Linked DNA regions of Homo sapiens: all the other regions are linked to region 1. The links come from fine-mapping of genetic effects on gene expression. A gene starts in region 1. Each other region holds a variant in brackets. All regions are shown on one strand. Distances are from middle to middle.

Region 1 (2,500 bases):
TCGCTTGAACCCGGGAGGCGGAGGCTGCGGTGAGCCGAGATCATGCCACTGCACTCCAGCCTGAGCAACAAGAGCGAAACTCTGTCTGAAAAAAAAAAAAAAAAATCCCAATATGCCAAAGCAGCTCTGTCAAAAACCTTCAACGCTCACAAACATATCTAGTAATAACGAACGACTCATTAAAATGTACTATCTGTTCAGAGAAAAAAGTATTAATATATCTACAATACGAGACTGGGCTCCAAGAATATAAATCCAAATTGTACTGATTGGTCTGAATAAGCATTTTCCAAAATGAACAACCTGAACCTACACCACGAATACATTTAATTAGTTATAAAGCTTAGGACAACGCTAGTGATCTCAAACATTAGAACGTAAGCGCTGAAGCCTGCTCGTTAGTTCCTTTTACCTGGAGCTTTAAATTTCTAAAGCCATCATCTCCAGGGACCTCTGAAGGAAATTCAAGGCCAAGTATAGTATTTCATGATAAGTGAGAATAAAGGCACTCAATCCCTGGAGCCGGCGATTCCTGTTCCTGTCTCTAGACTGGACTCGGTAAAAGCCCGAGGCGAAACCTCCCGTTTATCTCCTACAGGACCCCAGCACCTTAGGGGATGGCTCCACAGAGCCCCACCGGGACCCCCCATCGCGGGGACCAGAGGGGCGGAGGAGGGAGACACTCTCCAAAACAAAGCGCCGCTCGCCCCACGCGGAGGCAGGCGCACCTTTCGCCCTGACAGGACGCAGACACACGTGTGTCACCTGTGCGGGAAGGGGGAGCAGCGACATCCTCGGAGGTGCGTGCCACGGGCAGCGGTCGGCGGCTGCGCTGGCCCCGATGCCTGGTGCCCGCCGCTCATTCCCGGGCTGGGGAAAACTTTCGGCCGCCTCCCCCAAGGCGCGCCCCCACCTCCCGGGACCCCCGGGGCACGCGCCCCGACCGCGACGCCCCGCCCCAGGCCCGCCCCTCCGCGCCCACGGCTGCGGCCCCGCGCCCCCAGCCCCGCGCGGGCACCCGCGTGCCCTCAGGCGCGCCCCCGCGCCGGGCCCGGCCGGCAGAGGGCGGGGTCGCTCACCAGTCCGCAGCTCGTGCTTGACAGTGAGGAGCTGCTCTCCTCCGTCGCCGCCGTCCGCGCTGGTCCCCGCGGCGCCGCCGCTGCTGCCACCCTCCTCCTCCATCTTCTCCTTTTTTTCCGATCCCGCGGGTCGCTACGAGGGGAACCCAGGAGACAGCGGACGCCCGTCCCCTCGCAGCCGCTGCCGCGGCCCCAGGAGTCGGGGTGCGGCGGCTCCAGAACTCGGACGCAAAGACGAGTCTCTTTCCCGCTCTGGCCGCACGGCTCGCTCCTCGCCTCCTCCCCCTTCGGCGGGCACCGCTAGTACCGCGCAACCAAACCGCCCCCTGCTCCACCGCCGCCTCCTCAGGCCGCTCCGCCCACAGCCAGCAAGGTAAGGGAGCCATTCGAGCCGCCTTCGCTGATTGGACACAGGGCGCGCGCGTCTGCCAACGCCGGTTCCCATTGGGCAGTACGCTGTGACGTTTCACGAGCCTCCCCGCCTCGCTCCTCGAATTGTTGTTGCTTGGCGGGGAGGCAGGAGAGGGAGGAGCGCCGCCACTCCGATTGGTGAGACCCAAAGCTCTGCCCCGCCCATTTCCTCTGGTGCGCACTCGCAGTCAAGACCTTCCCTTCCCTGACCTCCCCAGAACGGTCACACCCCTTATTCCCCAGCTTCGATCTGTTAGTAAACAGTGTCTAGTAGTCAGGAGGCGCTCGGGGTCTCTGATTGGCTACTGCCGAAAGAGGCGGGGAGGGATGATTGGAACGTTTGGTCCGCCAATCACCGTGGACAGAGGAGGGGCCTGGAGGGTAGCGCTTATCACCCACGTGTTTGCAGACAAACCTAAGGGTCCCGGCAGCGATCCATGCGTGTGTGACAACCAGCGAGACGGCGTGCCCTAAAAAGGTCTTACTCGCTCTAGTGAACCCTAAACAAGTTAAGCAGAGTGTTTGTTCTTAAATAACAGATAGTTCTTAAACGTTACAAAAATTCACAGTCCCAGCTCCCGATGAGGAATTTTACGAAGGAGAGACATTTCTGTTTCGTACAAGACTCTTACTAGGCGCCGAAAGGATGCAGAGATTAACAAAATAGAATACAATTCCTCCCCTAAGCAGCTTTCAATAGAACGTGAGAAACAATCTGTGTGTGTACACAAAAGAACTATAAAGCAGAATTTGAAATAAAGCAGTCGTACAAAGCGTTAGAGAATCTCGCACGGATGGCAATAATTATTCCCAGACGAGGAACTGGGGAAAGCTTTTAGGGCAAGGAGGCATTTGAGATAACCAACGTAAAGGATGGATAAGAGAGAAATACCAGCAATAGACATTCCACACAGAGAGAGTAACTGTGAGCATTGGCCTACAGCAGAGAAGGCAAGGGTGGGTTAAGTGATTGATAAGGTTAGATGAAAGTATGATGTAAGAGATACAGC
Region 2 (2,838 bases), 93 kb before region 1:
TTTATTTACATATTGTACATTTTATTCTAAAAGCTAATTTACATGTATTCTGCCAGAAAGTCAAGTTGGGATCTGGCACCAAAGAGGCAGACTAAAGTCCAAGGACAATTTTCTCTCTGCCAGGCACAGGGTCTAGCCCTATCGAATACAAGGCACTAATACTAGTTGCAAGGAATGAGTAAACATGTAATATTGCAGTAACTAACTGCCGTAGCCACATAAGTATTAAGGTAGATTCTTCATCTTAAGTTTCAGCATTGATAAAGAGTAGAAAGAAATAGAAAAGAAGAGAGAAAGCAAAAGAGAACTGGTAATAACAGTAAGAACATCTTTCTTGATGGGCATGTCTCAAGTTCTGAGCTCTTCCAAGAGATAAATTCAGGATAAGTCTTCAGACTTATTCTGTTTACAACTGAAGAACAAAAGAAAACTATCAATAGTCCATCTTTATGACAATAATTAAAAATAAATAGGTAGGGCTAACTCTAATACATGTTCTCAGAAGCTGTCAGGCAAATTTCATTAATGTGACCCTTCCAAAAAACATTTATCATCCCATTGAAATTGACTTACAGTCCATACAATGGAATACCTTATATGATCCTTGTGCCAATGATTTGTTTCTTGATTAAAAGAAATGTCATGTAAATGATTATATCTTAATTCCTTTGTATTTCTTAAATGGTCTTCTTTATATGTAGGATGACTAATATTCTATAACTGCAAAATATTAATATAAATAATTCTAACTTCCACATAAGATTGTCATGAGGATTAAATGAGCTACTGAGGATTATGAGCCAGGCATACAGTAGGCATTTGTTAAATAATAACTAATAGCTCCTATTATTATTTACAGGCATCAGTTACAATTTATAGACTTGAAAAATACTGTCAAGCTTAATTATAATGACTTAAATATAAAAATCAAATTTATTGTGCCCTGACTTACATACTCAATGTGGTCATAATTTTAAGACTTATGAATGTTTAACATATATTTCCATAAAGTACTACCAGGGTCTAATTACTTAGTATTAAGCTAAAGAGAGATTTTCTTATATAACTGATATTTCAGTGCAATCCTAAGTTTTAAAATTGCAGAGATATCTGGTTTTTATTCAAGTGCAATTAACTTGCTTTTAAAGATTTTTATGTTCTGGTATTTGGAATGCCAGATGAAGCACTCTGATACTGTGTCTCTAAGAAGCATAAAAATAACACAGAAATCACACAAATAATGTGAAAATTCAAAAACATAAAATTTCTCCCATTTTAAAACACACTACCATCCTCCCTAAATCCCACGTGTCCCATCTTGTCTTTCTTCTTTATTTTACTGCCAAACTTCTTTAAAGCGTGGTCTACATGGCTGATGCTCCTTACCCACTGTTCCCTTCATATTGCTGCTATAGGAAGTTACCACAGACTTAGTGGCGTAAACACTATGAATTTATTATTTTATAATTTTGTACACTCGAAGTCTGACATGGACATCACTGGACTAAAATCAAGGTGTCAGCAGGACTGCGTTTCTTCTGGG[G/A]CTCCAGGGAAAAATCTGTTTCCTGGCCTTTTCTAGCTTCTAGATACAGGCCACCCACATTCCTTGGCTTCTGGTCCCTTCCCTCATCCTAAAAGGCAGCTATGGCAGCTGAGTCACTTCTCACATTGCATCACCTGACCTTCTCTGTAGACACATCTCCCTCTCACCCTCCTCTCTCCTCCCTCCCTCCCTCTTCCTATTGTGTAAGGACCCTTGTGGTTACATTGGCCCCACACCAGATAATTCAGAATAATCTCTCAATTTTAGAGTCAGCTGATTAGTGGTCTTAATTTCATCTGTAATCTTAATTCTTCTTTACCATGTAGCTCAACATACTGACAGGTCCTGGGGGATTAGAATGTGGGCATCTCTGGGAGGACATTATTCAGTCTACCACAGCCTCTATTCATTCCTTAACATACTACAGTACAACTTCTACCTCCATGATAACACCATAACTTAAAGCTAAAAATAACCTCTTGTTACTAGAGTCAATGAATACTTTTCAGTCCTCATATTACTTAACTTTATGCCCTTTGCAAAGGGCAAAAAGGAAAAGAGTGTTTCAAAGGCAGCAAAATAGCACAAAAACTGCCTCTATGGATCAGCCCAAATTGAGCCCCTCAAAAATGGTTATGTTAACCCACTGAATTTTGGGTTAGTTATGCAGAAAAAGACAACTGATATATTAGCAACTTGTAGATCATGCTTATAACTTAAGTGTCTTGTTCAAGATCACACAGTTAATAACCAAAACAATCTTTTTATTTTAGCAGAATAATAGCCCTTTAATTTAGGTCACACATCTTTCATATTAGGAAAACAATTTATATTTCATTTCAATGACACATAATTTATGCAGATATTTAACAGTAGCAAGTAGATTTCACTTTGTTATTATGAAATAATATTTCCTTCTTGGATTCAGAATAGCAAGCCGTGTGTGTGTATGTGTGTTTGTATGTATATGGAAAGGCAGGTAGAGAATGGAGGAGAGAAAAATAGCCTTTAAACCAGTAAATTTGTTTCTTAAAACAGTAAATTAATTCTGAGAATTTGAACTGAAGATCTCTACAAAATTTCCAAGATTCTTAAGCAACTCATATCATTCTGACAATTAATACCTTATGGAATTAACGTTAGGGTAAAACAGCACGTGCTCTCCATCAAAATTCTGACTTTCTAAGTACATACTGTTGCACAGTTTCAGGCTGCTCGTCTTTGCACATCTGATTTGACTTAACGTTGAACTCAGAAATCTCTCCATTGTTCTGCAGTTCATACACTTTTATTAG
Region 3 (2,852 bases), 73 kb after region 1:
GTTGAACTTCATTTTTTTCCAAAATTCATTGTAGACCAATATTTTTGTAAGTACAATAAATATTAATTACTATGGGCAGGGTGTGGTACCTCACTCCTATAATTCCAGCACATTGGAAAGTAAAGGTGGGAGGATCACTTGAGCCTAGGAGTTCAAGACCAGGCAGGGCAACATAGTGAGATCCCATCTCTACCAAAAAATAAAACAATTAGCTTAGCATGGTGGTGCATGCCTGTAGTCCAAGATACTTGGGAGACCCATAACTTTTTCTTTTTTTTTTTTTTTCTTGAGACACAGTCTTGCTCTGTCACCCAGGCTGGAGTGCAGTGGCACGATCTTGGCTCACCGCAACCTCCACCTCCTGAGTTCAAACGATTCTCCTGCCTCAGCCTCTCAAGTAGCTGGGATTACAGGCGCCCGCCACTGCGCCCGGCTAATTTTTGTGTTTTAGTAGAAATGGGGTTTTGCCATGTTGTCCAGGGTGGTCTCGAACTCCTGACCTCAGGTAATCTGCCAGCCTCGGCCTCCCAAAGTGCTGGGATTACAGGCGTGAGCCACTGCGCCCAGCCAGAACTTTTTCATCTTCCCAAACTGCAACTCCTCAGTCATCCCTCCCTTCCCCCAGCCCCTGGCAACTACCATTTTACTTTCCATCTTTATGAATTTGACCATTCCAGGTCCCTCATATCAGTGGAATCATATAATATTAGTCCTTTTGTGTCTAGTTTCTTTTACTTATAATGTCTTTCATGTCTCCAAGGTACACCCATGTTATGGCATATATCAGAATTTCATTCTTTTTTGGCTGGGCGCGGTAGCTCACGCCTGTAATCCCAGCACTTTGGAAGGCTGAGGTGGGCGGATCACTGGAGGTCAGGAGTTTGAGACCAGCCTGGCCAACATGGTGAAACCCCTGTCTCTACTAAAAATACAAAAATTAGCCGGGCGTGGTAGCAGGCGTCTGTAATCTCAGCTACTTGGGGGGCTGAGGCAGGAGAATTGCTTGAACCCGGGAGGTGGAGGTTGCAGTGAGCCGAGATCTTGCCACTGCACTCCAGCCTGGGTGACAACAGCAAGACTCCGTCTCAACAACAACAACAACAACAACAAAGAATTTCATTCTTTTTAAAGGCTGAATAATATTCCATTGTCTGTATATACCAAATTTGTTTATCTATTCATCCATCAGTGGACATTGGCTTCCACCTTTTGGCTATTGTGGATAATACTGCTATGAATATTGGTATACAAATATCTGTTCGAATCTCTGCTTCCCATTCTTTTGGGTATATACCAGAAGTGGAATTACTGGATTACATGGTAGTTCAATGTTTAATTTTTAAAAATTATATATATTTTTTCTAGAGATGGGGTCTTACTATGTTTCCTAGGATAGTCTTATACTCCTGGCCTCAAGCAATTCTCCCGTCTCAATCTCCCAAAGTGCTGGGATTACAGGCATGAGCCACCGCCTGTAGCCCAATGTTAATTTTCTGAGGAACAGCCATACTGTTTTCACAGAGGGCTACACCATTTTACCATCACACCAGCAATGTACAAGGGTTCCAGTTACTCCGTGTCCTCACCGATACTTCTTTTCTAATTTTGCTTTTGTCTTTGATAATAGCCATCCTAATGTATGTCAAGTGGTATCTCACTGTGGTTTTGATTTGCAGTTCTGTAATGAGGTTGAGTATCTTTTCATGTGCTCA[G/C]TGGCCATTTGTATAGCTTCTTTGGAGAAAGGGCCATTCGAGTCCTTTGCCCATTTAATTGGACTATTCATTTGTTTTTTGAGTTGAGTTGTGGGAGCCCTTTCACTCCATCTTAATTACCATAGTTTTCTGTGTCTTAATATCTGGTAGAGGACAAGCCCCCAACCCCAACACACACCTGTCTGTTGCTCTTGTTTAAAAGCGATTTGTTATTTTTTGGCCCTTGACCCTTCCCTGTAAGTTTTGGAATCAGCGTGTTCAGTTCCTTTTTAAAAACCTGTTAGGATTTTGATTGGAATTGCCTAGAATATACAATTTAGGGAGAACAGATATATTTACAACATTGCGTCTTTCTGTCGTGAACATGCTGTCTCTCCATTTATTAGTTCTTCTTTAATGTCTTTAAGTAAAGTTTTACCATATTTTCCATAAACGATTTCACATATTTTGTTAGATTTATTCCTGGGTAATTGATATTTATTCATGCTATTATAGATGGTATCATTCAAAATTACATTTCTTTTTTTTTTTTTCTGGGATAGAGTCTCCATCTGTCACCCAGGCTGGAGTGCAGTGGCACCCTCTCAGCTCACTGCAACCTTGGCTTCCCAGGTTCAAGCGATTCTCTTGCCTCAGCCTCCCGAGTAGCTGGGACTACAGGCCTGTGCCATCACGTTCGGCTAATTTTTGTATTTTTAGTAGAGACAGGGTTTCGCCATGTTGCCCAGGCTGCTCTCAAGCTCCTGACCTCAGATGATCCACCTGCCTTGGCCACCCAAAGTGCTGGGATTACAGGCATGAGCCACCGTGCCCGGCCTCACAATTACATTTCTAACTGTTACTGGTGTATAGAAGTGCAGTTGACTTTTACATATTGATTTTATATACAGAAACCTTCCTGAACTCACTTACTAATTTTAATAATTTATTTGTAGATAATGTTGGGTTTTCCACGCAATCATAATATCTGCACGTTTTTTCTTCCTTCCCAAGCCTTTACACATTTTTTTCTTTTTCTTTTTGTGACAGGATCTCACTCTGTAGCCCAGGCTGGAGTGCATTGGTGTGATCTCTGCTCATTGCAACCTCCCCCTCCCAGGCTCAAGCAATCCTCCCACTAGCCTCCCGAAGTAGCTGGGA

Which allele goes with the higher level. Alleles are on the strand shown, and positions count from the first base shown. SD is a standard deviation of normalised expression in the study named. Not every link is listed here.
In carriers of allele A in region 2, the expression in Th1/17 cells of the gene that starts at base 1,389 in region 1 tends to be lower than with G alone (large effect, 0.77 SD a copy in Schmiedel 2018).

The links. PIP is the estimated chance that this variant, and not a neighbour inherited with it, causes the effect. A credible set is the group of variants that fine-mapping cannot tell apart.
Region 2: its variant is the best candidate, but not a certain one, in a credible set for the expression of RPS6KA5 in Th1/17 cells (Schmiedel 2018, PIP 0.54).
Region 3: its variant is the best candidate, but not a certain one, in a credible set for the expression of RPS6KA5 in whole blood (TOPMed, PIP 0.84).

The regions. Positions count from the first base shown.
Region 1 is chr14:91,059,253-91,061,752 of GRCh38, forward strand. RPS6KA5 (ribosomal protein S6 kinase A5) reads right to left here and starts at 1,389. Exons shown (of 17, transcript NM_004755.4): 1 at 1,080-1,389. The coding sequence starts at 1,182. It also overlaps a transcript of DGLUCY not described here. RefSeq lists silencers at 842-911, 982-1,111, 1,482-1,541, 1,762-1,891 and an enhancer at 1,119-1,699.
Region 2 is chr14:90,966,575-90,969,412 of GRCh38, forward strand. The region is part of intron 3 of RPS6KA5 (ribosomal protein S6 kinase A5); the gene reads right to left. Among named protein-coding and RNA genes, the nearest start is that of RPS6KA5, 93 kb to the right of the region's middle. The variant G/A (reference allele first, on the strand shown) is at 1,544.
Region 3 is chr14:91,132,209-91,135,060 of GRCh38, forward strand. All of the region lies in intron 1 of DGLUCY (D-glutamate cyclase), which reads left to right. Among named protein-coding and RNA genes, the nearest start is that of SNORA11B, 7.2 kb to the left of the region's middle. The variant G/C (reference allele first, on the strand shown) is at 1,713.